Linked DNA regions of Homo sapiens. The protein of the gene in region 1 purifies or fractionates together with the protein of each later gene. This does not show direct contact. Each region holds a gene or a part of one and is shown in the gene's direction. Other genes may lie near its edges.

The links.
Region 2: the proteins of ASB8 (region 1) and KIF26B purify together in Homo sapiens (affinity purification with mass spectrometry, with the first as the bait; one large-scale study listed by BioGRID). This does not show direct contact.
Region 3: the proteins of ASB8 (region 1) and SLC25A13 purify together in Homo sapiens (affinity purification with mass spectrometry, with the first as the bait; one large-scale study listed by BioGRID). This does not show direct contact.
Region 4: the proteins of ASB8 (region 1) and SLC25A6 purify together in Homo sapiens (affinity purification with mass spectrometry, with the first as the bait; one large-scale study listed by BioGRID). This does not show direct contact.
Region 5: the proteins of ASB8 (region 1) and RUFY3 purify together in Homo sapiens (affinity purification with mass spectrometry; one large-scale study listed by BioGRID and IntAct). This does not show direct contact.
Region 6: the proteins of ASB8 (region 1) and TRMT61B purify together in Homo sapiens (affinity purification with mass spectrometry; one large-scale study listed by BioGRID and IntAct). This does not show direct contact.
Region 7: the proteins of ASB8 (region 1) and IARS2 purify together in Homo sapiens (affinity purification with mass spectrometry; 2 studies listed by BioGRID and IntAct, with this or other methods). This does not show direct contact.

Annotation. Positions count from the first base shown.
Region 1 is NC_000012.12:48,154,716-48,158,998, reverse strand, and holds the start of ASB8 (ankyrin repeat and SOCS box protein 8), read left to right. Parts: upstream 1-1,483; 5' UTR 1,484-1,540; intron 1,541-1,741; exon of another isoform or gene 1,742-1,877; intron 1,878-4,283. UniProt on the Homo sapiens protein: May be a substrate-recognition component of a SCF-like ECS (Elongin-Cullin-SOCS-box protein) E3 ubiquitin-protein ligase complex which mediates the ubiquitination and subsequent proteasomal degradation of target proteins.
Region 2 is NC_000001.11:245,686,485-245,689,984, forward strand, and holds part of KIF26B (kinesin-like protein KIF26B), read left to right. Parts: coding exon 1-2,323; intron 2,324-3,500. UniProt on the Homo sapiens protein: Essential for embryonic kidney development. Plays an important role in the compact adhesion between mesenchymal cells adjacent to the ureteric buds, possibly by interacting with MYH10.
Region 3 is NC_000007.14:96,119,720-96,123,098, reverse strand, and holds the end of SLC25A13 (electrogenic aspartate/glutamate antiporter SLC25A13, mitochondrial), read left to right. Parts: intron 1-1,101; coding exon 1,102-1,260; intron 1,261-1,353; coding exon 1,354-1,444; intron 1,445-1,721; coding exon 1,722-1,908; 3' UTR 1,909-2,879; downstream 2,880-3,379. UniProt on the Homo sapiens protein: Mitochondrial electrogenic aspartate/glutamate antiporter that favors efflux of aspartate and entry of glutamate and proton within the mitochondria as part of the malate-aspartate shuttle.
Region 4 is NC_000023.11:1,385,652-1,389,113, reverse strand, and holds the end of SLC25A6 (ADP/ATP translocase 3), read left to right. Parts: intron 1-1,694; coding exon 1,695-1,835; intron 1,836-2,354; coding exon 2,355-2,512; 3' UTR 2,513-2,962; downstream 2,963-3,462. UniProt on the Homo sapiens protein: ADP:ATP antiporter that mediates import of ADP into the mitochondrial matrix for ATP synthesis, and export of ATP out to fuel the cell.
Region 5 is NC_000004.12:70,763,464-70,766,963, forward strand, and holds part of RUFY3 (protein RUFY3), read left to right. Parts: intron 1-88; coding exon 89-206; intron 207-1,011; coding exon 1,012-1,113; intron 1,114-3,500. UniProt on the Homo sapiens protein: ARL8 effector that promotes the coupling of endolysosomes to dynein-dynactin for retrograde transport along microtubules. Acts by binding both GTP-bound ARL8 and dynein-dynactin.
Region 6 is NC_000002.12:28,849,321-28,853,309, reverse strand, and holds the end of TRMT61B (tRNA (adenine(58)-N(1))-methyltransferase, mitochondrial precursor), read left to right. Parts: intron 1-810; coding exon 811-902; intron 903-2,011; coding exon 2,012-2,238; intron 2,239-2,699; exon of another isoform or gene 2,700-2,904; coding exon 2,905-2,982; exon of another isoform or gene 2,983-3,067; coding exon 3,068-3,111; 3' UTR 3,112-3,368; coding exon of another isoform or gene 3,369-3,460; 3' UTR 3,461-3,489; downstream 3,490-3,989. Other genes in the region: SPDYA (speedy protein A), read right to left, coding at 3,369-3,460.
Region 7 is NC_000001.11:220,104,132-220,107,631, forward strand, and holds part of IARS2 (isoleucine--tRNA ligase, mitochondrial precursor), read left to right. Parts: intron 1-1,759; coding exon 1,760-1,929; intron 1,930-2,929; coding exon 2,930-3,020; intron 3,021-3,500.

The DNA of each region.
Region 1 (4,283 bases):
GCCTATTTTATCACTCCCTGGGAGACTCCGCTCATTCTTACATTTGTAAGATGCTGATGGTTTCCCAGAATTTATATACTTCAGCATTTCCCAACCAAGAAATTTGAGAGATGTGGTCCAGTGTGGTGACTCATGCCTGTAATCCCAGCACTTTGGGAGGCCGAGGAGGGTGGATCACCTGAGGTCAGGAGTTTGAGACCAGCCTGGCCAACATGGTGAAACCCCATCTCTAATAAAAATACAAAAAAAAAATTAGCCAGGTGTGGTGGCAGGTGACTGTAGTCTCAGTTACTCAGGAGGCTGAGGCAGGAGAATCACTTGAACCCGGAAGGCTGAGGTTGCAGCCAGCCGAGATCACGCCATTGCACTCCAGCCTGGGTGAGAAGAGCGAAACTACATCTCAAAAATAAATAATGATGATGATAATAATAATAATAATAATAATAATAATAAAAACATTGCCAACATTTGCAACTTGGAAAAATTCACTTTTTAAAAAAAATCTGTATTTCAGCTTCTTTTGAAAAATGGACGATCTCACCATGGTGCAGTGGCAGGAAGTGGAGGGCATATTCCTACCTGGCAAAATTCCTTTGAGTCTGGAGCTCAAAGGAGGCCCACTCCTCAGACCAGGTCATGAACTTTCAGTTTACCATCCTCTTACTGATGTACATGATCTGTCTGGGCCTGCTTTAAATCTCTAATTGGTTAGATTTGGTTGCTTAGAACAAGCTCTGGGGAGTAGGTGTGGGGCACTCTGGTTAAACAGGCTACCGGGCAGACCACAACTCTTGCAGTCTGCCTAAATGGGCTGCTGCTTCACTCCTTCCATGCACCACCACCATGTGCTGCTGACTTCAAAATGTTTATGCTTTGCACAGAAAGTCTGTCACTCAGAGGTGTCATCATGTTTTTGTGCGGGAAGTTTCATTAACCCTAATAAGAGTTATAAAGGTCATTTATTCCTCTACATTTAGAATACTACACCTCTTGGGTGGTTGAGTTTGTCTTTGATATGGTTTACTTGAAGGAGGGTGGACATGTACAGGAGGGTTCTAAGGAGCATAGATTCGTTCCACCATTATGAATAATGCTGTAAGTATTTTTGTCAAAGACACTTCCTACTAAGAGTTTAGTCTCCTAAGCAACTGAACCATTGTGGATGGACCCCTGCTGGCCTGGTCCACGCAGGTGCAACCATATAGAATCGGCCCAACACTCAGGGTTCCTGAGCTTTTTTATCCCCGCTGCAGGACCAAGACCCGAACCCTGCGGCTGTGGCCGAGAACGCTGCACTGAGCCTGCGCGCAAAGCCTCTGAGTAAAAGGAGAAAGTAACCCCCTAACTAGGCCTCTGGAGGGCGAAAGCTGCTGCACAAGTCTGCGCAGGCGCGCCCCGCTGACGAACACTCATCAGTGCGCAGGCGCCCATCTTAGTTGGTCTTCTAGTCCGGTAAACAGAGGGCCTGCCCCCGACAGCTTCTGCTTCCGGGTCACGCCTTGACAGCGGCTTTCAACCCCCACCTCAGCCCAGCAATTCGGTGAGTGCGGTCCTTGGAGTGGGTCTACAGCCAGGTTTCCTAACCCAGGGTACCACGCCCAATAACGCTTCCTCTACTCCCTGGTCGAAGTGCTCTAGTTCTCGAGGCTGAGACTTATTTCCGGGCCTTAGAAGGCAGATCGAAGAGGGGGTTGGTCCGCGTCTGAGGCCCCCCAGCGCAAATTGCGTGATTCTCTTTCAGTACCGGACCTACCGGGATTGCTGCGATCTGTTTAGAGCCCGTGCAGAAAGTGACACCGCACGTCCTTGCGTTTCGTGCCCTTGCCCCCCGCCCCCTAGCCTCAGCGAGACAGCTGCCGCGGGCCCTCCCGCAGCAGGTGCGGTGGGGATTACGGGCGCTGCAGGCTCGGCCAAGGTTCTCCCGGGGCGGGAGGGGGCGGGGCCGAGGCCTCCCTCGCATCAGAGCTGTTGTGTCTTCTCTTTTCCAGTTTGCTTTTTTTTTTTTTTTTTTTCAGCTTCTCAGTAAGTGCCCTTTGGTGTTTTCTCTGGATCCCGTAGCAAAAGAAAACGAGGGAGACAGGGCTTTCAGCTCTAGCAGAGGAAAGGGCCTTCCAAGGGGATCAAACCTTACACGGGCTGCTGTCTAGTGAGATCGAATTTAGCTTTCCTTGACCATTCCTGAAGTGAATGCTGTCTGCCCTGAAGTTTCATTCCTTTACCGGGAGCTTCCAGGCAGCAGCAGACCACTGACCATACTCTCAGGAGTTCTTAGCCCAGAGCCCAAGAGCGCCCGGGAAATTAGTTCAGGATTTAGTTTCATCCGATTATCATGGCCCAGAAATGGTTAACAAAACGACTTTATTTATTTATTTTAATTTTTGAATTTTTTTGTAGAGACGATTGGGTTTTGGGGTCGTCTCGCCATGTTGCTCAGGCTGGTCTTGAACTTCCAGGTTCAAGAGTTCCTCCTGCCTTGGCCTCCCAAAGTGCTGGGATTACAGGCAACAGAACCACTTTGGTCCAAGCCTCCTGCTTTAGATGCTCTGTCTTCTGCTGCCATTCTTGGAATTACCAACTCAAATGCACTTGTCTTTTTTTTTCCTTGAAACAAAAAAATTATAAGATACAGATACTTGTCTCAGAGCAGTTTAGTGGCTACTGGAGAGATTAAAACACATGCCAAATCTAAACTATCTAGAAAATGTCATAGAGACATATAAACAAGTGTGTCAGCTTATCCGTGCATGATAACGGGAGAAAAATACCTAATTTGAATTATCGATACATATGAATATTTTTACTTGCATTCTTTTAATGGAATTTACATCTACTATAAATGGCTACTGATTCACAAAATAGAAACTATCAGAATTTATAGTATATAATATATAAAGGGATACACAATCACAAAAAGCAAAAATAGGCCGGGCATGGTGGCTCATGTCTGTAATCCCAGCACTCTGGGAGGCCAAAGCAGGTGGATGACCTGAGGTCAGGAGTTTGAGACCAGTTTGGCCAACATGGTGAAACCCTGTCTCTACTAAACATACAAAAATTAGCTGGGCGTGATGGTGCACACCTGTAAATCCCAGCTACTCAGGAGGCTGAGGAACGTGAATTGCTTGAGCCTGGGAGGCTGAGGTTGCAGTGAGCTGAGATCGCACCACTGCACTCCAGCCTAGATGACAGAGTGAGACTCCGCCTCAAAAAAAAAAAAATAAAGCAAAAGACTATATATACATATATATATATATATTTTTTTTTTTTTTGAGATGGAGTCTCACTCTGTCATCTAGGCTGGAGTGCAGTGGCGCGATCTCAGCTCACTGCAACCGCCACCTCCCAGGTTCAAGCGATTCTCCTGCCTCAGCCTCCCAAGTGGCTGGGACTACCAGGGGTGGTGCATGCCACCATGCCTGGCTAATTTTTTTGTATTTTCAGTAGAGACGGGGTTTCACCATGTTGGCCAGGCTAGTCTCGAACTGCTGACCTCAAGTGATCCGCCCATCTCGGCCTCCCAAAGTGCTGGGATTACAGGCGTGAGCCATCGCGCCCCGCCAAAACATTATATATTATTAAATGACCAAAACAATTTCATATGGGTAATGTGCTTATTTATTTCAAGTCTTGAATTTCTTAGGATCTAAAGTAATAAACTTTACATTGGTTCAACAGATGTTAAGAACCTACCATGTGTTCAGGTACTATTGAAAAAATCAGTATCGTTATTCCCAAAGAGCTTATAATAAGAACACAGATTTCTAAGCAGTTGCACCTAGAGAGCTGATACTGTGTATTATATTTTCCCTATTGTTTTTGATATGTACTGTTTCATAGAAGTGTTCTACCTTATTGGCTGTAATTTTAAATGGTCCCTAACTCTTGTCTCTTATACAGCCAAGCCTTTTAAGTTGAATTGAAGTATATTGCATTATTTTCTTCTTCCATCCTAGAACTCTGTCCTATTGTGGTTTCAACATATATTTCACCAAATCTATTTCTCAGTTGCCATGAATAGCCAATTATTAAAAATTTTCACTCATTTTATTTATTTTTTTGAGATGGAGTCTCACTCTGTTGCCAAGATTGGAGTACAGTAGTGCAGCCTCAGCTCACTGCAACCTCTGCCTCCTGGGTTCAAGCTATTTTCCTGCCTCAGCCTCCCGAGTAGCTGGAATTACAGGCGTGCGCCACCATGCCCAGCTAATTTTTTTTGTATTTTTAGTACAGATGGGCTTTCACCATGTTGGTAAGGCTGGTCTCGAACTCCTGACCTCAGGTGA
Region 2 (3,500 bases), on another chromosome or scaffold:
ATCCTGAGCACCACGATGGTGACGGTGCAGCAGCCACTGGAGCTGAACGGTGAGGACGAGCTGGTGTTCACGCTGGTGGAGGAGCTGACCATCAGCGGGGTCCTGGACAGCGGCCGCCCCACCAGCATCATCAGCTTCAACAGCGACTGCTCTGCACGGGCCCTGGCCTCGGGCTCGCGGCCCGTCAGCATCATCAGCAGCATCAGCGAGGACCTGGAGTGCTACTCCAGCACGGCCCCCGTCTCCGAGGTCAGCATCACACAGTTCTTGCCCCTCCCGAAGATGAGCCTGGATGAGAAGGCCCAGGACGCAGGGAGCAGACGCTCTTCCATCAGCTCCTGGCTGAGCGAGATGAGCGCGGGCAGTGAGGGTGAGCAGTCGTGCCACAGTTTCATAGCCCAGACGTGTTTTGGGCACGGGGAGGCAATGGCAGAACCTGTGGCCTCGGAGTTTGTCAGCAGCCTCCAGAACACCGCTGTGGTGTGCAGAGAGAAGCCCAAGGCCAGCCCCGACAACTTGCTCATCCTGTCTGAGATGGGAGATGACTCTTTCAACAAAGCAGCCCCCATCAAAGGCTGCAAAATATCCACAGTGAGCAAGGCCATGGTCACCATCTCCAACACGGCCAATCTGAGCAGCTGCGAGGGGTACATCCCCATGAAGACCAATATCACAGTTTACCCCTGCATTGCCATGAGCCCCCGGAACATCCAAGAGCCGGAGGCCCCCACCGCCACCCCCAAAGCAGGCCCCACATTAGCCCAGTCCCGGGAGAGTAAGGAAAACAGTGCAAAGAAAGAGATGAAATTTGAGGACCCGTGGCTGAAACGAGAAGAGGAAGTGAAAAAAGAGACGGCTCATCCCAATGAAGAAGGGATGATGAGGTGTGAGACTGCCACGGGCCCCTCGAATGCTGAGACCAGAGCAGAGCAGGAGCAGGACGGAAAGCCCAGTCCGGGAGACAGGCTCAGCAGCAGCAGCGGAGAGGTGTCGGCCTCCCCGGTCACTGACAACTTCAGGAGGGTCGTGGATGGGTGTGAGATGGCCCTGCCCGGTTTGGCCACCCAGAGCCCCGTGCATCCCAACAAAAGCGTCAAGTCCAGCAGCCTTCCCAGGGCCTTTCAGAAGGCCAGCCGGCAGGAGGAGCCGGACAGCCTCTCCTATTACTGCGCTGCTGAGACCAACGGGGTGGGTGCAGCCTCGGGCACCCCGCCCTCCAAGGCTACCCTGGAGGGGAAGGTGGCTTCCCCCAAGCACTGTGTTCTGGCTCGGCCCAAAGGGACTCCCCCTCTGCCCCCTGTCCGAAAGTCCAGCCTGGACCAGAAGAACCGGGCCAGCCCTCAGCACAGTGCCAGCGGCAGCGGCACCAGCAGCCCCCTGAACCAACCAGCCGCCTTCCCGGCGGGCCTCCCAGACGAGCCTAGCGGCAAGACGAAGGACGCCAGCAGCAGCAGCAAGCTCTTCAGTGCCAAGCTGGAGCAGCTGGCCAGCAGAAGCAACTCGCTGGGCAGGGCGACAGTCAGCCACTACGAATGCCTCTCCCTGGAGCGGGCCGAGAGCCTGTCCTCCGTGAGCTCCCGGCTGCACGCGGGCAAGGACGGCACCATGCCCCGCGCGGGGAGGAGCCTGGGCCGCAGCGCCGGGACCTCGCCCCCCAGCTCCGGGGCCTCGCCCAAGGCCGGCCAGTCCAAGATCTCCGCCGTGAGCAGACTCCTCCTGGCCAGCCCCAGAGCGCGCGGCCCGTCCGCCTCCACCACCAAAACCCTCAGCTTCTCCACCAAGTCCCTGCCGCAGGCGGTGGGCCAGGGCTCCAGCTCGCCCCCCGGTGGGAAGCACACGCCCTGGTCCACGCAGTCCCTCAGCAGGAACAGGAGCTCGGGCCTGGCCTCCAAGCTTCCCCTGCGGGCCGTCAGCGGGCGCATCTCGGAGCTGCTGCAGGGTGGCGCGGGCGCCCGGGGCTTGCAGCTGCGGGCCGGGCCCGAGGCGGAGGCGCGCGGGGGGGCCCTGGCCGAGGACGAGCCCGCGGCCGCGCACCTGCTCCCGTCGCCCTACAGCAAGATCACGCCCCCGCGGAGGCCCCACCGCTGCAGCAGCGGCCACGGCAGCGACAACAGCAGCGTGCTGAGCGGGGAGCTCCCGCCGGCCATGGGGAAGACGGCCCTGTTCTACCACAGCGGCGGCAGCAGCGGCTACGAGAGCGTGATGCGGGACAGCGAGGCCACCGGCAGCGCGTCCTCGGCGCAGGACTCCACGAGCGAGAACAGCAGCTCCGTGGGCGGCAGGTGCCGGAGCCTCAAGACCCCGAAGAAACGCTCCAATCCAGGTAGGCGGCTGGGCGCAGGGACGCGGGTGAGGAGGGCGGCAGGTGGGCGAGCTGCCCAAACCCCACTGCCAGGGTGTCCCGTGCCCTGGGGAGGGGGCGTCCAGGCCTGGCCTCTCCTTGCAGGTGGGCGAACTGCCCAAACCCCACTGCCAGGGTGTCCCGTGCCCTGGGGAGGGGGCGTCCAGGCCTGGCCTCTCCTTTCCCACGGCCCGGCACCCCGCGGGGCTCCGCCGGGGACATCACCGCGGAGGGTTTCTCTGTGAGAAACTGCCCTACTGCGTGCCGTCATCAGGCTTAGGGCCGTGAATCCCTTGGCGCTCAGCAGGGTGGAAAGGCGAGGGCCCGGATGCAGGTGGCAGCATGACCCGCACCTGCTCGCTCTGGGGGCAGCCTGGCTCTTCGCCGTCCATTCCCTCACCCCTGCCCCTCTGTTCAACAACCAAGGATCCTGTGGACGGTTTACAGCCTGTTGAGGGATCAGGTGAGGGTACCTACCCTCATGACCTGGTGGCTTCAGAAGCCCCTCCTGTGAGGTTGGTGGCCTGCAAGACCCTGGCAGCCTCTCTCAGGGATGTGGGATAACGCACAGATTGTCCCATTGAAAGTGGAATGGCGAGGCCCTTCCTCCACCTCCACCCCAAACATATTTGTGGACAGTCATGTTTGCACACCTGCCACAGGGCCTGCAGTGCCCCCCGCCACACACACCATGATGCCTGAAATGCGTGATTTTGGAGAAAGTCTTTGCCATTTCTTTTTTTCCTTTTTTTGAGACAGTCTTACTCTATCGCCCAGGCTGGAGTGCAATGGCGTGATCTTGCCAAACTGCAACCTCTGCTTCCTATGTTCAAGTGATTCTCCTGCTTCAGCCTCCTGAGTAGCTGGGATTACAAGCGTGCACCACCGTGCCTGGCTAATTTTTCTATCTTTGGTAGAGACAAGGTTTTACCATGTTGACCAGGCTGGTCTCGAACTCCTGACCTCAAGTGATCCGCCCGTCTCAGCCTCCCAAAGTGCTGGGATTACAGGCGTGAGCCACCACACCCAGTCAGTCTTTGTCATTTTTAAGAATCTCCTATCAAAAGGCACGTACTCCAGAATAATTAATATATAAAGCCCACAGACTTGTTAATTGGAGTCTTGGGTGGCACATGACAGTAAGTTATGATGGGCAAGG
Region 3 (3,379 bases), on another chromosome or scaffold:
AGATACTCCTTCAGTAATATAAATGGAAGCGTGTAGTATGCAGATTTACACCCCCCTTCCAACTCACTGTAACTTTAAAGCTGTCTGTTAGAAGGATGAAATGTAGTTGTGAGCCAGACCATGTTGGTTTGGACAGAAATTCTTACAGAATTATTAAGCCTTAAAAAAAGCAAAGGAGATTTATGCATCTGCATTTGACCAATTTGGTTTGGAATAAGTTCATAATGGAAAAGTAATAAAACCATAAGAGACAGTGTCTTCTGAGTACAGTCTCGCTTTTAAAAAATCTAAACATGCACTGCCCTATTTTGGATACAGTGACTGTAGAAAAATTTCCCATTGGTAACTTTGGGAGGGTTTTCTGTTGTTGTTGTTGTTCCTTTTTCATTGATTATCAGCCAGTATAAATTTTAAGCTTTCTGTCAAATATTTTTCTGGAGATGTCAGTCTTAGGGAAAAGAAATCCTAAAGTGTTATCTGTAGGAGTCTCCTTCTCCCAATTTCACCCCCTCCCCGAAACCTCCACCTCCCACCCCCCAACACACATAGTGTTTTTTAGATATCAGTAAAGTCTTTTTCTGGTGTAACTGGAGAGGTTGGGGTTTGGAGAGTAGGGGGTGGTTGAATGTGTGAGAGAAAGCACCTCCTGTGACTGCCAGCAGCCACAGAAGACCATGAAGAGGAAACGCATAACAAGCTTCACCTCTGAAAAATCGGACCTAATAACTTCGCAAGTTTTTGATTTCAACAGGAAAGAAAAAGAAAAGAAAACCGCTTTCTCCACTTATTCTCAACCACTTGAAGTAGTGTTATTGATAAACAATTTCTTAAAAATATTTAAAGATTTAGGAATAGAAACAAAGGAAATGAAGGCTGAGTGATTTGGGCAAGGGAAGGTGTGAGTCTGGTGGGGAGGGGTGTAGGAGCAGACATCTTGCACACAGGAGAGGCATGGTTGCATTTCCCATAGAGGACAGCAAAATAGGCATTTTATTGAATCGGATTTTTAACTTTCTTTCCACGGCCAGCAGTTCAAAGCACAGTTATTTTTATATAGTGAGAATGTGACCAGACTGAGATGGTGTTGTGTCTCTCCTGCAGGTATGCCTGCAGCATCTTTAGTGACCCCTGCTGATGTTATCAAGACGAGATTACAGGTGGCTGCCCGGGCTGGCCAAACCACTTACAGCGGAGTGATAGACTGCTTTAGAAAGATACTGCGTGAAGAAGGACCAAAAGCTCTGTGGAAGGGAGCTGGTGGTATGGAAATAATGTGTTCTTAACTAACTCTTTGGTATCAGGTAAATTTTTAAAATATCTAATTATATCTGTGATTTCTCCATTTTTTTAAAGCTCGTGTATTTCGATCCTCACCCCAGTTTGGTGTAACTTTGCTGACTTACGAATTGCTACAGCGATGGTTCTACATTGATTTTGGAGGAGTGTAAGTATCATGCTAAATCTGCTGCTAAATTTTGGCTGCTGCTAATGCTCTGTTGTCGTAGGGAAAGGTACCTCAGTCTAGTCTCTATAATAAAATAGAAGAGATTTAGGGAAATGTTGAAATTGTGTTAACAAGGTCATTTCCAAGGGGAACATACAACTGATGAGAATGTATCAACTCCTTTACATTAAATATTTGAACAGGTTTTGAATGTTATTTTTATCAAGTTAAAACAAACAAAAAATACAGCTTCTTACTCTGTTTTCTCTTCTTTTAGAAAACCCATGGGATCAGAGCCAGTTCCTAAATCCAGGATCAACCTGCCTGCCCCGAATCCTGATCACGTTGGGGGCTACAAACTGGCAGTTGCTACATTTGCAGGGATTGAAAACAAATTTGGACTTTACCTACCTCTCTTCAAGCCATCAGTATCTACCTCAAAGGCTATTGGTGGAGGCCCATAGGAAGATCAGCCCTGGGATAGTGCTGTCTTTTTGTGGGTACTGCAGTAAAGAACATCCCTCCTGGGAATGAAGCAATGCTTCATCCCTTTTACGTCCATCTCTTGTTTAAATTCAAGTCCAGGCTTTTTTATCATGTGAAATCATTCATTTTCTGGGTGTTTTCTTAACCAGATCATTGTGAAATTATTCATAATTATTATTTGGCCCTCTGCCCAGAAACCTTTGTTTGCATCTGAAAATTGATGGGATTTGGTCAACACTAACATGATTTGGGGAAAGGAGCAAGTCAGAATAGAAATTAGTACTCCCCTCCTTGAACTAGGATTGTAGTCCCAAAGAGGCTACTGTAAGGCAATCATGGTGCTCAGAGCAGTGTTTCGTGTGTGTTTTAAACTGGTAGGAAACTAGGTGCATATTTATAAAAATAAAAAACACTGGGAGAAATGAAAAAATATATATCAAATATATTCAGCCTGGCTTCAAATTGTAAGCATGCACAAATTCTGTCTCTGGATTATATTATGAAGCTTTTATGTGAAACATGTTTCTTTGTAATGAAAACCACATTGGAGATGTTTAGTAATCATATTGTTACTGGTACCAAGACTACTAGGGAAATGCCTTTGTACTTTAGGGAAGTACTTTTGGCATTTTACTGTACAGACAGAAAAAACTGAGATGTAGCCCCTCTCCTGGAAGTGCTAATTTTGAAAAACTGCTCATATGATGTACATGTACTGATTACTGCCTATTTTAATAAACACTCTTGAAAAATGCATGTTGCCCTGTTGCTGCCTGCCCTATTCTCCTCATCTCCCCATCATTGGTACCCACTTGCTTTTAAAATCCACTTTATCTTGAATAATGTAAGACAAATATGTTCTGACATAAGTATTTAATTCATGTTGCCTTGCATAATGGTCAGAGGCGCATGAATTTGTGAAGGTGGAAATAAACTATTTGTAAAGTGATTGAGTTGTTTGGTCTTGTGCATGTTGCATGGTGAGTGGATACAGTAATTGTCATTATTGGCCTACATGTTTTGTTTTGAGGGGAATTTTATTCATATTGGCATGGATATATCCTCAGTATCTTTCAAGGTAATGTGTTCCCTCATTTTCATGGTTCAAAGTGAGTACAAGAAACTGTATTTAACCATAGATAAGCAAAGAACTAGCAAACTGACACCTTAGTTCTAGTCATTCCAGCACTTTCGGCAGTTTATTGTGATGATGAAGGTCACATAGTTTTAGTAGAACTTAGCCATGAAAACTGGTATGAAATGGCAGTCGTATTTTCTAATCCAGTCTGACTCTTGCACACACCAAAACCATATACCACTGTATCTAACATTTGCTATTATTTGGCTAGCACTATAATGATTTGGGGAAAGAAGCTAGTCTTGAACAGGATTTAAGGCTATTCTTAGACCGTGATCATGCTTCCAAAGAGGCTACTAATTAATCTGTTG
Region 4 (3,462 bases), on another chromosome or scaffold:
TGGACTTGGAGACGCCGTCTTCTCCCTGTGCCCTCACAGCATCATCCCTCTGTGTGTGTCTGTGTCCTCATCCTCTCTTCTTATGGGATGTCTTAATCCATTTCAGGCTGCTATCACAGAATACCATAGACTGGGTGACTATAAACAACAGACATTGATTTTCCTACAGTCCTGGAGGCTGGAGGTCTGAGATCCAGGTGTGGGCAGGGCTGGTTCCTCCTGCGGCCTCTCTCCTAGGCTTGTAGATGCCGTCTTCTCCCTGTGCCCTCACGGGGTCGTCCCTCTGTGTGTGTCTGTGTCCTCATCTCCTCTTGTTATGAGATGTCTTAATCCATTTCAGGCTGCTATCACAGAATACCATAGACTGGGTGGATTGTAAACAGCAGACATTGATTCTCCCACAGTCCTGCAGGCTGAAGGTCTGAGACCAAGGCATGGGCAGGGCTGGTTCCTCCTGAGGCCTCTCTCCTGGGCTTGGAGATGCTGTCTTCTCAGGCTTTTTCCTGTGTGTGTGTCTGTGTCCTCATCTCTTGTTATGAGATGTCTTAGTCCATTTCAGGCTGCCATCCCAGAACACCATAGACTGGGTGACTTAGAAACAACAGACATTGATTCTCCCACAGTCCTGGAGGCTGGAAGTCTGAGATCCAGGTGTGGGCAGGGCTGGTTCCTCCTGAGGCCTCTCTCCTGGGCTTGGAGACTCCGTCTTCCCTGTGTCCTCACAGGGTCGTCCCTCTGTGTGTGTCTGTGTCCTCGTGTCCTCTTCTGATGAGATGTCTTAGTCCATTTGAGGCTGCTATCACAGAATACCATAGAGTGGGTGGACTGTAAACAACAGACATTGATTCTTCCATAATCCTGGAGTCTGGAAGTCTGAGATCAAGGTGTGGGGCAGGGCTGGTTCCTCCTGAGGCCTCTCTCCTGGGCTTGTAGACGCCGTCTTCTCCCTGTGTCCTCACAGGGTCATCCCTCTGTGTGTGTCTGTGTCCTTATCTGCTCTTCTTATGAGGTGTCTTAGTCCATTTCAGGCTCCTAAAACAATACTATAGACTGGGTGGCTTATAAACAGCAGACATTGATTCTCCCGGAGTCCTGGAGGCTGGAAGTCTGACATCAAGGAGTGGGCAGGGCTGGTTCCTTCTGAGGCCTCTCTTTTTGGCTTGTAGACACCGTCTTCTCCCTGTGTCCTCACAGGGTCATCCCTCCGTGTGTCTGTGTCCTCATCTCTTTTTAGAAGGACACTGGGGTCGTAGGATCAGGGCCCACCCTACTGGCCTCCTTTAGTCTTACCTCTTTCAAGACCTTATATCCAAGTACAGTTGCATCCTGAGGTCCTGGGGTGGGGGTGGGACTTCAGCATGTGGATTTTGAGGACAGAGTGTAACTCCCATAGTAACGGTGACCCTTCAGAAGGTCAGGGCCCTATTCCCTTCCCCAAACAGGCCTAACCCCGGCCTCTGGGACTGTCTTGCTGGGCTCCGGTAGGTGGCAGGCGGCCTTTTCCCCTCTGGCCCTGCCCCGACCTCTCGTGTTGTAAACGTCAGCTGGCACTGAGCAGCCACGTGGAGGGGGCACTGGTGGTCTCGGAAGAGCTCGGCACCACCTCAGGGGGCCGTGAGCACACCCTGGGGGCCGACCCTGGTCTCGGGTGGCCGTGCAGGCGCTGGAGACGGTGACGTGCCGTTCCCGCGCAGGCATGCTCCCCGACCCCAAGAACACGCACATCGTGGTGAGCTGGATGATCGCGCAGACCGTGACGGCCGTGGCCGGCGTGGTGTCCTACCCCTTCGACACGGTGCGGCGGCGCATGATGATGCAGTCCGGGCGCAAAGGAGGTACTCGGGGGGGCGGGGGACCCTTGCTGCCGGGAAGGGGAACCAAGCTCCTTGCCCTAGGCCCGTGGGAGGTCAGGAACCATCAAAGGAGGCACTTCCAGGGCGTGTGAGACAAGCAAGTGTGTCCGAAAGTAACCTGGCTGTGTGGAAGGATTTTCCTGAACGATGGGCTTCTGATCTTTTTGGGGTTTCATGGTCCGGGCGGCAGTTTCTAAATCCCCGCCTCCTAGAACCTCTGGTTGCACCCACACCCTCGATCCTGCCTTCTCTGCATGGACCCCGGGGTGGAGATGGGGGACACCCAGGGCGGGGCCTGAAGTCCTGTGTCCAGCCCTCCCTGAGACAGTGGCTTAGGAGGAGGGCTTGAGCTGGGGGAGCCTCAGGTATCCCTCCTGTAATCAGAACTGTGGCTCAGGCGTCTGGGGTGTTATTTCTGTGAAACGTCTTTGTGGGTGCAGGTGGCGTCCGTGTCTTGAAGAGCTTGGCGGCGAGGCCCTCACTGTCTCCCTGTCGTTGCAGCTGACATCATGTACACGGGCACCGTCGACTGTTGGAGGAAGATCTTCAGAGATGAGGGGGGCAAGGCCTTCTTCAAGGGTGCGTGGTCCAACGTCCTGCGGGGCATGGGGGGCGCCTTCGTGCTGGTCCTGTACGACGAGCTCAAGAAGGTGATCTAAGGGCCGCGGCCTCCTCCACACACACACACACACCAGGGGAACCAAGAGAACCACGTAGAATCCTCAACCGTGCGGACCATCAACCTTCGAGAAATTCCAGTTGTCTTTTTCCCAGCCGCATCCTGCCTGTAGATGGCCGGGGAAGGCTCTAGAAAAGGGGCGCATTGCGATCCAACCATCGGCAGCCGATTCCGTGTCTTGATCACGGGGTGGGAGGGAACCGTGGCGTCCCTGCGTGGGGCCCATGGGTGAGACACTCCAGTACTGAGACCTAGAGTCCAGATGCTTGTAGGAGCCAAGTCGTGTTCTAAGTATTTATTTAAAACAAAAGAATCACGTTTTCCCATTTGTACTTCAGCGCTAGCCCCTGTTTTGCACAGCCGAGTACTGGCGAGTATGTTCTATGTTGGGCCTCCTGCTGCAAAACAATAAACAGAGGACGCAGAGGTCCTCCTGCCTGGCCACGCACCTCTCCACAGGGCGGCCTGGGGTCTGGAGATGGGCGCTGGGCCCACGGGACGCAGATGGGGCCACGCTCTGCCCGTGGCTGGCCCACGTTCCTGGTCTGCAGTGCTGCCTCCTCCCCAGCACCCCTGGGGCACAGAGGGCAGGGTCACAGCTGGGAAGAGGCGGGGGGTAGAAACCAAGGCTGGCAGAAGTGTAGCCGGGCTCCCTGATAAATGCTGGAGGACCCCAGGGCACCTGCACTTACTGTACCCTCTCTGAGAGCATTTGTATGATCTCATGTCTCAGCTCTGGAGGCTGGAGGTCCCAGAAAACCAAGGTATGGTAGATTCAGTCTCTGGTGAGTACCCAGTTCCTGGCTTCTAGATGGCGCCTTCTCCCTGTGTGTCCTCAGATGATGGATGAGGCCAGGGTGCTCTCTGGAGTCCTTTCTGTAAGGGCACTGATCCCATCCATGAGGCCTCATGACTCCCAAAGACCCCCAC
Region 5 (3,500 bases), on another chromosome or scaffold:
AAAAGTTGTGTGTGTATGTGTGTGTGTATTGAGAGTGCGCTTATGTTGTAAAGAATATTAAAATACTGCTTTATTTTTGTTGCCTTAGCTAAAAAAACTTTTCTCGGACAAAATAAATCCTTCTGGGGGCCTCTAGAACTGGTAGAAAAGCTTGTTCCAGAAGCCGCAGAGATAACAGCAAGTGTTAAAGATCTTCCAGGACTTAAGTAAGTCTAAGGTTGAATTCCATTTCTCAGGAACAGCATTCTTATTAACTATCCCTTGAAGAGCAAGACTAAAGACAATTATGTACGAATAATTTATTTTATAACAATCCAAAATGCATGATGTCATGAATAGGTGCTGACAGGAGAGAATTGGTATACAGAATATTGAGAAAAATGTGCTCTTGAGGGATAATTATTCATCTAAGAGAGATTGTCTTTTTGTTGAAATGCCAAACATTTGCTTATTTTTTAAAGCACTTGGGAGAATCATATCTAAGGGGGTGGCATGCTGTACTTGACTTAGGGAAAAAAGGTATTCAGTGGGTTTGAGAGTCAAGATTAAAACAGCTGTCAAATTAACCTGAAGAGCTAGTGACTGTAGCCTGCCTTAGAACTATAAAGTAGTGACCACCTTCCCAAATGAGACTGGTTTAATTTTAATCAGACAGAGGCCTAGATTGCCTGTGTCCACATTCATGCTTTGGACATTTATATAATCCACACTGAATTTATAAGGATTTGCTATTATTGATCTGATGGAACATTTTTAGTTGGGTCTCCCAGAGGCTGTGTCTTCAAATTGTAGTTACATTCAGTAATTCTTTTTGAAAGCATTTGTTCCGGGTCACATTAGCCCACACACAAAAATTCCTTGCATGGGAATGTACTGGGAGAGGTCCTGAGGAGCACCTCAGTGTGCTTGTTACACTGGAATACCATTAGCAAGAATAAGTGAACTGATTCTACTGTAGCCTTTGCTTCTGGTGCTTATGTTTTCAGTTGTTTGATTTCTGTGTTTTTGTAGGACACCAGTAGGTAGAGGAAGAGCCTGGCTTCGTTTGGCATTAATGCAAAAGAAACTTTCAGAATATATGAAAGCTTTGATCAATAAGAAAGAACTTCTCAGGTATGAACACCTTCTTGAACTTTCTTCTTTCCTTGGTATGTTCTACATCGTATAAAGTCAAACCATATAAGTTCACTATTTTTGTAGATCAGAAACATTTGATTCATAACAGCTTCACTGATACTTTCTCTCATACCTCACACACATATCCTCCCAAATGGATGATTTATGTTATGTGTGTTCTGTCTGTCACTGTGGCATATATTGGTCCTTTCCAAGGCAGGCCAAGACTTACCTCTAGAAAACAGAAGGCACCTTAGCATGTGCCCAGGCTCAATAAGACAAGAACTTGACATGTAGCATTAAATTCAAATATAGCACAAAATTGGACGGGTGCAGTGGTTCACGCCTGTAATCCCAGCATTTCGGGAGGCCAAGGTGGGCAGACCACTTGAGGCCAGGAGTCTGAGACCAGCCTGGTCAATATGTCGAAACCCTATCTCTACTAAAAAAATATAAAAATTAGCCGGGCGTGGCGGTGGACACCTGTAATCCCAGCTACTTGGGCGGCTGAGGCACGAGAATCGCTTGGACCTGGGAAGTAGAAGCTGCAGTGATCCGAGAGCGTGCCACCACTCTTCAGCCCGGGCGACAGAGTGAGACTCTGTCTCAAAAAAAAAAAAAAAAAATGTGTATATATATATATATATTTGTAAAATCACAAAATCTTCCAGTAGATCATAGATACAACTGGGAGAGGCAAAACAACATTATTTTATCCGTCTTTATTATATGATTCCATTGTATAAAGGTCAAAACTAGGTAAAATCAATCTATGGTGATAGAAATCAGGATAATAGTTACCTTGAAGAGGTGGGGGTAGAGATTGGAAGAGAGAAAGAATCCGATTTCTAGGATTTCAGTACTGTTCTCTTTCCTGATCATGATAGTGATTACACAGATAGATGTGTTTTTTGTGAAAGTTCATGGAACTAACAGTTAGCTGAGATTTGGAAATGTGTGAATGTTGGAATTCAGCCATATTCCACTTCTGAACAGTTCATAAGGTTAGGCTTTTGGGACAATAAACTGTCAAAGAACCTTGTTCATTCCAGTTCTACTCAGTTTCCTTCAGAGGCTATCAAAGAACAAAAATAGCATGTGATCAGTTTTTGAGAGAAACAGTAAATTTGCAGCTCATTCACTTGCTGTTTTTGTGCTATTTTGTCATTTGTTAATATCTTTTTTTTTTTTTTTTGAGACAGAGTCTCACTCTGTCACCAGGCTGTAGGCTGTAGTGCAGTGGCGCTATCTCCACTCACTGCCACCTCCGCCTCCCGGGTTCAAGCGATTCTCCTGCCACAGCCTCCTGAGTAGCTGGGACTACAGGCGCACACCACCACACCCAGCTAATTTTTGTATTTTTAGTAGAGACGGGGTTTCACCGTGTTGGCCAGGATGGTCTCGATCTCTTGATCTCGTGATCCACCCACCTTGGCCTCCCAAAGTGCTGGGATTACAGGCGTGAGCCCAGCCTATTAATATCTTTTATAGTGAATCAGAAAAGAAATAAGGAACTAATATCAGTGAATTATATTGATTGTTAACAGTGATTGAGGTTGACCTTTACCCCCAGGTAACTTGTTGAAAACAAATTGATTGCAGTGTTGTTTTAATCATGATGTCAAATTGACTGAAAATGAATAATTCAGGTCACTGGGTTTTCGTGTTTTGTTTTGTTTTGCTTTAAGAGACTCGCGCTCTGTCACCCAGGTTGGAGTGCAGTGGTGCAATCACGGCTCACTGCAGCTTCCACCTCCCAGGTTCAATCGATTCTCCTGCCTCAGCCTCCCGAGTAGATGGGACTATAGGCATGCACCACCACACCTGGCTAATTTTTGTATTTTTAGTACAGACAGGGTTTCACCACGTTGGCCAGGCTGGTCTTCAACTCCTGACCTCAAGTGATCCACCTGCCTCAGCCTCCCAAAGTGTGGGGTTTACAGGCGTGAGCCACCGCACCCGCCTGTTTCCATTTTTTTAAAAAATCTAAAAGACTATTTTTTAGAGTGGTTTTAAATTTATAGCAATATTGAGTAGAAGGTACAGATATTTTTCATACATACCCTTCCCCCCTGTACAACCTCCCTCATTATCAACATCCCACAGGAGTGGTACATTTGTTACAATTGATGAACCTACATTGACACATCATTATCTCCCAAAGTTCATAGTTCACATTAAGGTTTACTCTTGGTATTGTATGTTTTATGGATTTTGACAGATGTATAATGATATGTATCCATATGTCATTATAGTACCATACAAAATAGTTTCATGGCCCTAAAAAATCCTCTGTGCTCCACCTATTCATCTCTCTGTCCTCCAACCCCTAATAACCACTGATCGTACTGTGATTGTACTGTTGTTACCAGGGGTTTACTGTC
Region 6 (3,989 bases), on another chromosome or scaffold:
CAGCTACTCGAGAGGCTGAGGTGGGAGGGTTGCTTGAGTTCAGGAGGTGGAAGTTGCAGCGAGGTGACATTGTGCCACTGTACTCCAGCCTGGTCAACAGAGCGAGACCCTGTCTCAAAAAAAAAAAAAGGAAATTCACATTGTCTCAAATGTTTAAATTTTTCATGTTGTAATGGCGTGTTTTACACTTGGCAATATTGATAATACAGGCATACAGGAATCTTTCTTTGGTTATATTCATATATACATACATAGCCAAATCAATATTTCCATATTAATATGCAAAGTACAAGACATATCATTATGATTTTTCAGTATCATCAAGTACTATGACAAATTGTTTTTTCTTCCCTGAGACAGGATCTCACTCTTGCCCAGGGTGGAGTATGATGGCACAGTCATAGGTCACTACAGCCTCGAACTCCTAGGCTCCAGTGACCCTCCCACCTCAGCTTCCTGAATAGCTGGTACTACGGGCTTGTGCCACTGCATCCAGCTACTTTTTTTTTTTTTCAATAGAGTCAGAGTCTCGCTATGTTGCCTGGGCTGTTCTCAAACTCGGCCTCAAATGGATCCTCTTGCCTCAGCCTCCCAAAGTGTTGGGATTACAGGCAGAAGCCACATTGCCCAACTGTATAATAATTAACATACCCTTTTGGGAGTGGTAAAATGATAGTTAATAATACTACCTTCTAAAAAATGAAATACTTTGATTGCTGTCCAAAAGTGTGTCATTTCACCACAATAAGAAAACTTATGCTTTATTTAAACGGAATCAGACTGATCCAGTTCTCTTTTTCCCCCACACAGGTAGCTTTGGATATGTTAAATCCTCATGTTACTTTGCCTGTTTTTTACCCACATCTTAAGCATGGTGGTGTATGTGCTGTATATGTAGTAAAGTGAGTAATATAACTGTTTTTCTTTGTAATGTAACTTTTAAGTGCACTTTTGCTTAAGTATCAAACTAAATTTTTTTTTTTTTTTTTTTTTTTTTGAGACAGAAAAAAACTCTGTCACCCAGGTTGGAGTGTAGTGGTATGATCTCAGCTCACTGCAACCTCCACCTCCCCTGTTCAAGCAATTATCCTGCCTCAGCCTCCCAAGTAGCTGGGGTTACAGGCGCCCGCCACCACGCCCGGCTGATTTTTTCTATTTTTGGTAGAGAAGGGGTTTCACCATGTTGGCCAGGCTGGTCTTGAACTCCTGACTTCAGGTGATCTGCTCACCTGGTCTCCCAAGGTGCTGGGCTTACAGGCTTGAGCCACCACGCCCAGCCAAAATATTCATTTTGTAACTGAATAAAGTGTATATGGCATCTTATACAACTGTTTTAAAATGACAAGTCCCAAGTTCATTTATATTACTGTATATTTATTTAGTGTTTTTTTTTTTTAAACTTTTTTCGTTTTTTTTTTTTTTTTTTTTTTTGAGACAGAGTCTCGCTTTGTCACCCAGGCTGGGGTGCAGTGTCATGATCTCAGCTCGCTGCAACCTCCGCCTCCTGGGTTCAAGTGATTCTCCTGCCTCAGCCTCCTGAGTAGCTGGGATTACAGGTATGCGCCACCACACCCGGCTAATTTTTGTATTTTAGTGGAGACAGGGTTTCACCATGTTGGCCAGGCTGGTCTGGAACTCCTGACCTCAAGTGATCTGCCCCCCTCAGCCTCCCAAAGTGCTGGGATTACAGGCGTGACCCACGCCCAACCCTATATTACTGTTTAAATCATTTTTTACATAAATAGTAATATAAGATGCATATTTTCTTCTGACAATCTGGAAGAAATGTTTTAAAAGTATAATGTGAACAGTAATGTTAAATTATGGTCTCTGTGTTTGTTTACTTAGAATTTTGTGAAGGTACTTTTTATGCCTCCTAACTTGCATATTTAAACCCTCTCCTGCCTTAATTTAACTATGGTATTTAAATGTGGGCAAGAGGTATAGGGAACTTAAATAAATATAATGTTATTATTTTAGTAGAAATGTAAATTTTTCACTTTTCTGAAAGCATCACACAGGTTATTGAACTTTTAGATGGAATTCGCACCTGTGAACTTGCTCTTTCATGTGAAAAGATAAGCGAGGTCATTGTCAGAGATTGGTTGGTTTGCCTTGCAAAACAGAAAAATGGAATTTTAGCTCAAAAAGTAGAATCTAAAATCAACACAGATGTACAACTAGATTCTCAAGAGAAAATTGGAGTTAAAGGTGAGCTGTTTCAAGAGGATGACCATGGTGAGCTTCAGTTTTACTTTATGCATGCAGTAATGAATGGAGAATGAGTTCCTGAGTATACTGACCAATAGATTATAAAAATATTCCTCAGCAATTTTCTATAGAAAAGTGTGATATTTATTCTGTTAAGATGTATAAGGCACAGAATAATGACTTTTCCTGCCTTTTACTTAAAACTCTGATACCTTTGAAGAATTGAGCTTTTTATAATATTCATATTTTACTTGTCACAAGGAGCTTGGTTTGTGAAATAATTTAAATGTATTAAGGATGTTTTATATTTAGATCACTGATTATTAATGGGACCTGATAGGCAAATAGCTAATATTCCAAAAAGCAACTTCTAAGATGCTGCTGGAATTCTTGAAAGAACTGAGTTTAGGTCTTTGTCATATATACACATTATTTAGGCCATGAACAAGTTTTCAAGTATCAGTTGATTTATGATATAGGCTTATCCATTTGGTTATAAAATCATATGTTTATTACATAATCATTGACAAATAGTTTCTGTATAATAACTGGCAGAGTAGCTCTAAAACATATGCAAGGAAATAAATAAAGAAAAAACTTACAATAAAGAGAGTAACTCATATTTTAACAGTTTTGTGAAAAAAATAGAAAATATTTTATGTAGCTTATAGTACATATATTTTTTTACAACAGAAGAATCGCATTCTGATTTTCCATATGGATCATTTCCCTATGTTGCTAGACCAGTACACTGGCAACCTGGTCATACAGGTGAGTAATGTTTTCAGAACATATTAAATGGTGTTTTTTCTTTTAATTAATATAATGACTTTATGTTTTTCTTCTCTTAAATTAGCTTTTCTTGTCAAGTTGAGGAAGGTCAAACCACAACTTAACTGAGTACTCCAGATGACAGTAACTGACTTGAAGATGGAAAAATATCAAAATAGAACTTTATATTGAAAATCACTGCTTCCATAGATTGGCATTTTTAGCTATTACTATGACTTATATAACTTATACATATAATTTTGAAAATAACAACTAAAAGATGTATAACATAGCAAAACTGCTTAAACATCCCATTTTGACACTTGTCTTGCAGTTAGTTTGACATTTTGTAGTTAATGATTCCAAATTGGTTTAGTTGGGCCATCTCATTCTTCACTTCCTGTAAACCACTCCATAGATTTGTCTTTCTTCAAGAAATTAGTTTTCTTTCCTTTATTTGATTGATGGTCATTGACTACTGAAATAAAATATGCATTTTAAGATAAATTTTATGTATCTGTCCATTTTAAATACATCTTATAATGGCTTGTATATGTCTTAAAAAATAATAAGGAAATCTGGGCTACAGTAAATAATGGGGGGAAACTTAAGAATGATATAATCACCTTAAAAATTGTAACAAAAGATGTAACAGGCTCTTGAATCTCTTTTATCCCCTCAGAATCTTTTTAACCAGCTTGAAAGAACATTAGAATTATTCAGTGTTACTACACAAATTAAATGTTTGGGGGCTGGGCACAGTGGCTCACGCCTTTGGGAGGCCAAGGCAGGCAGATCACCTGAGGTCAGGAGTTCGAGACTAGTCTGGCCAACATGGCAAAACCTTGTCTCTACTAAAAATACAAAAATTAGCTGGTTGTGGTGGCGGGCACCTGTAATCCCAGCTACTTGGGAAGCTGAGGCAGGAGAATCGCTTAAACCTGGAAGGCGAAGGTTGCAGTGAGCTGCGACTGTGCCACTGCACTCCAGCCTGGGTGACAGGGCGA
Region 7 (3,500 bases), on another chromosome or scaffold:
CCCGGCTAATTTTGAAAAAATATTTTACAGAGATGAATTCTTGTTGTGTAGCCCAGACTGGTCTGGAATTCCTGGGCTCAAGTGATCTGCCTGCCTTGGCCTGCCAAAGTGCTGGGATTAAAGGCGTAAGCCACTGTGCCTAGCCCAAAATAATTCTTTGTGAGCTATAATTTGGGACTTTTGAGGTAGTGACTGCTTTGAAATATAATTATGGAAGTCTAGGGAAGTTTAAAATTAGCTTTTTGTTGTTGTTGTTCTTCATTTTGTTTTGAGACGTGGTCTTGCTCTGTTGCCCAGGCTGGAGTGCAGTGGTGCCATCTTGGCTCACTGCAGCCTCTGGATCCTAGGCTCAAGTGATCTTCCTGCCTCAGCCTCTTGAGTAGCTGGGACTACAAGTGTGTGCCACCATGCTGGACTAATTTTTAATTTTTTTGGTAGAGATGAGGTCTTGCTACATTGCCCAGGCTGGTCTTGAACTCCTGGCCTCAAGTGATCCTCCTGCTTTGGTCTTCCAAAGTGCTGGGATTATGGGCATGAGCCACTGTGCCTGGACTAAAATTCTATTTTATTTTATTTTATTTTTAAAGAGATGAGGTCTCACTATGTTGCCCAGGCAGATCTTGAACTCCTGAGCTCAAGTGTTCCTCCTGCCTCTGCCTCCCAAAGTGGTAGGATTATAGACGTGAGCCACCATGCCTGGGCTAAAATTATCTTTGATCCTTAGGTATGATATATCTTTTAATTTCTTGCTAAAAAATCTATCACATGAATAAAGATACAAAAACTGCCTAGAAAGACTGCCTAGCTAAATAGGAAAGCCCTCTAAATTAATCAGTTCAGATACAAGCCAATGAGAAGTTTAAACAACCTTAACAAAAATAAAAAGATTTTTATGTCAGAGGCAGGAAAGGAGCTTAAGAATTTTGAAGACCATTTGGTCCTCTTTGGTGCAATAGGGTAATAAAAATAAAAACCAAGATAATAATTTACTTCACACCCTCTCTCACTGTGTTGCCCAGGCTTGTTTCAAACTCCTGGGCTCAAGCAATCTTCCTGCCACAGCCTCCCAAAGTGCTGCAATTACAGACATGAGCTACTGCACCCAGCCCCCTGCTCTTTTATAAATGCAGAGGATATTAAAGACTTCATTGTCAAGTTATACATTATCATAGAAGCTAAAAATCACAAGATTTTTGAAAGTGTTAAGGTTGAATTTAAAGATCTTTTGTCTAGATAGCATAATTGTTTCAAATTCTTACTATCAGATAATTATTGAGTTGCTATTTGAGTCACCATATTGTGGAGGAGTATATATATTATCCCTGTCAAAATAAGCTGGTGTCACGTAGCTACTACTTATTAAAGTAGTAGGAATGTTGAAGAGCTAAAAATGAAGTAATTTGTATGGGGTAGGTTTTCTTTCCGGAAAAAAATGAATTATTTCTTATCAATTACTTAGAGATCATTTTGGGAGGGTGGTGAGGGAGAATATTAAGTGGTAGATGCAGTAAGTATCAAAACACTTAAACTACATTAACTCTGTTTATTCTCACAGAAACCCTCTGAGGTGGGAACCATAATTATCTGCATTTTATAGATTATAGAAGGTCACAGAACAAGTTAAAGGGGAAGCTGGAATTTAAGCCTAGCCAGTATTGTTCTAGATTCTGCACATTTAACCTGATACTCTATTGCTAAGCTTAAGGAGATAGATTTGCCATATAAAATGATTCTTAATAGTGGTTTTCTTTCCCCACAGGTGTAGATTTGGAAAATGGTACTTGCAGTCATCCATTAATTCCTGATAAAGCCTCTCCTCTTTTACCTGCAAATCATGTGACCATGGCAAAAGGAACGGGATTGGTTCACACAGCCCCAGCTCATGGTATGGAAGACTACGGTGTAGCGTCTCAGCACAACCTGCCCATGGTACTGTTCCTCTTTTATCATTTTTAATTATTCATCTTAATAAAAGGAAATGATAAATTCTAACCAACATCTTCATTTTTTAAAAATGATGACTTTTGTCATCATAATTGTGAAATGCTCAGGTTTGTGTAGTACTCTAAAGTTTCATTAATTCGTACTAATTGAAAAAGATTTCCCAGAATTAATAGAAAATTAGCACTTTAGAATTGAAGAATATATATCATGGGGCACTTTTAAAATACTTTTTTTCTAGTATCAAGTCACATAGACAAATTACTTTTATTCCCTGAAAAAGCCTGTTTGTTTTAGCTAAACAGTCCTTTCTACATTTACTTTACATACTTCAGTTACTTAGCAAGTATTTCCGTTTAGTTAAAAGGTGAGTCAGAAAGGGAACAACTGTGTATATAGGCATAGATTTGGAAACAATAGAGACCACTCAAAGATGTTTTAATATATTTTGTTACTTTTGTTATTAAAGTTTATGGATATGCTTCAATAACACATTTTGGCTTTGGTGATTTAAATGTATAAAATTCACAAATTCCTATTTCCTTTTCTTTTCTTTTCTTTTTTTTTTTTTTTGAGAGGGAGTCTTGCTCTGTCGCCCAGGCTGGAGTGCAGTGGTGTGGTATGATCTCGGCTCACTGCAACCTCTACCTCCAGGGTTCAAGCGATTCTCCTGCCTCAGCCTCCCGAGTAGCTGGGACTACAGGTGCACACCACCATGCCTGGCTAATTTTTGTATTTTTAGTGGAAGTGGGTTTCACCATGTTGGCCAGGCTAGTCTCAAATTCCTGACCTCAAGTGATCTGCCCACCTCGACCTCCCAAAGTGCTGGGATTATAGGCCTGAGTGCCGCGCCCGGCCAAGTACCTAGAATTTCAATGTAGAAAAAGACCAGGCTATACTGAGATGTTTTTATATATATTGTTTTGCCAGATATTGTCATAAGAGAAAATGTCTTGATATTTTAATTGTTCAAAATGATACTTTATAGGATTGTCTAGTGGACGAAGATGGAGTTTTCACAGATGTTGCAGGTCCTGAACTTCAAAACAAGGCTGTCCTTGAAGAGGGAACTGATGTGGGTGAGCATCATATCTGTTGATATCATACATGTTTTCTGAAAAGTAGGTAGCAGTAACCTTTGCTACCTATTTTCCCTCCTTATACTTTAACAGAAACAAAAAAATAAATTATGTCTTGTTTTGCCATATGTTTTAAAATGGAGTTTGGGACTTTTTCATCTTTTGCTTTGAAGCTGCTTTATTTAAGCAAGTCAGGGCAGTCAACAGGGAGTGAAGTTATTTTAGGGCTATGGAGATAATAATCAGCAGTATTACTTTTGTGGAAGGATACAATCAAGATCAGGGCTGGATGTTGACTGTAAATTACACATTCCCTACTCACTTTTTAACCCTTGTAAATAACTGACCTATATGGCATGATTTATGTATTAGAATCTTGGGAATCCTCCAGCCTTGAATTGTCTTTCTGTCTTCCTTTACAGATTCAGAGACCAAGTGCTATGAAAACCTTTCTTTGCCCACACTAAGACTAAGGCTATT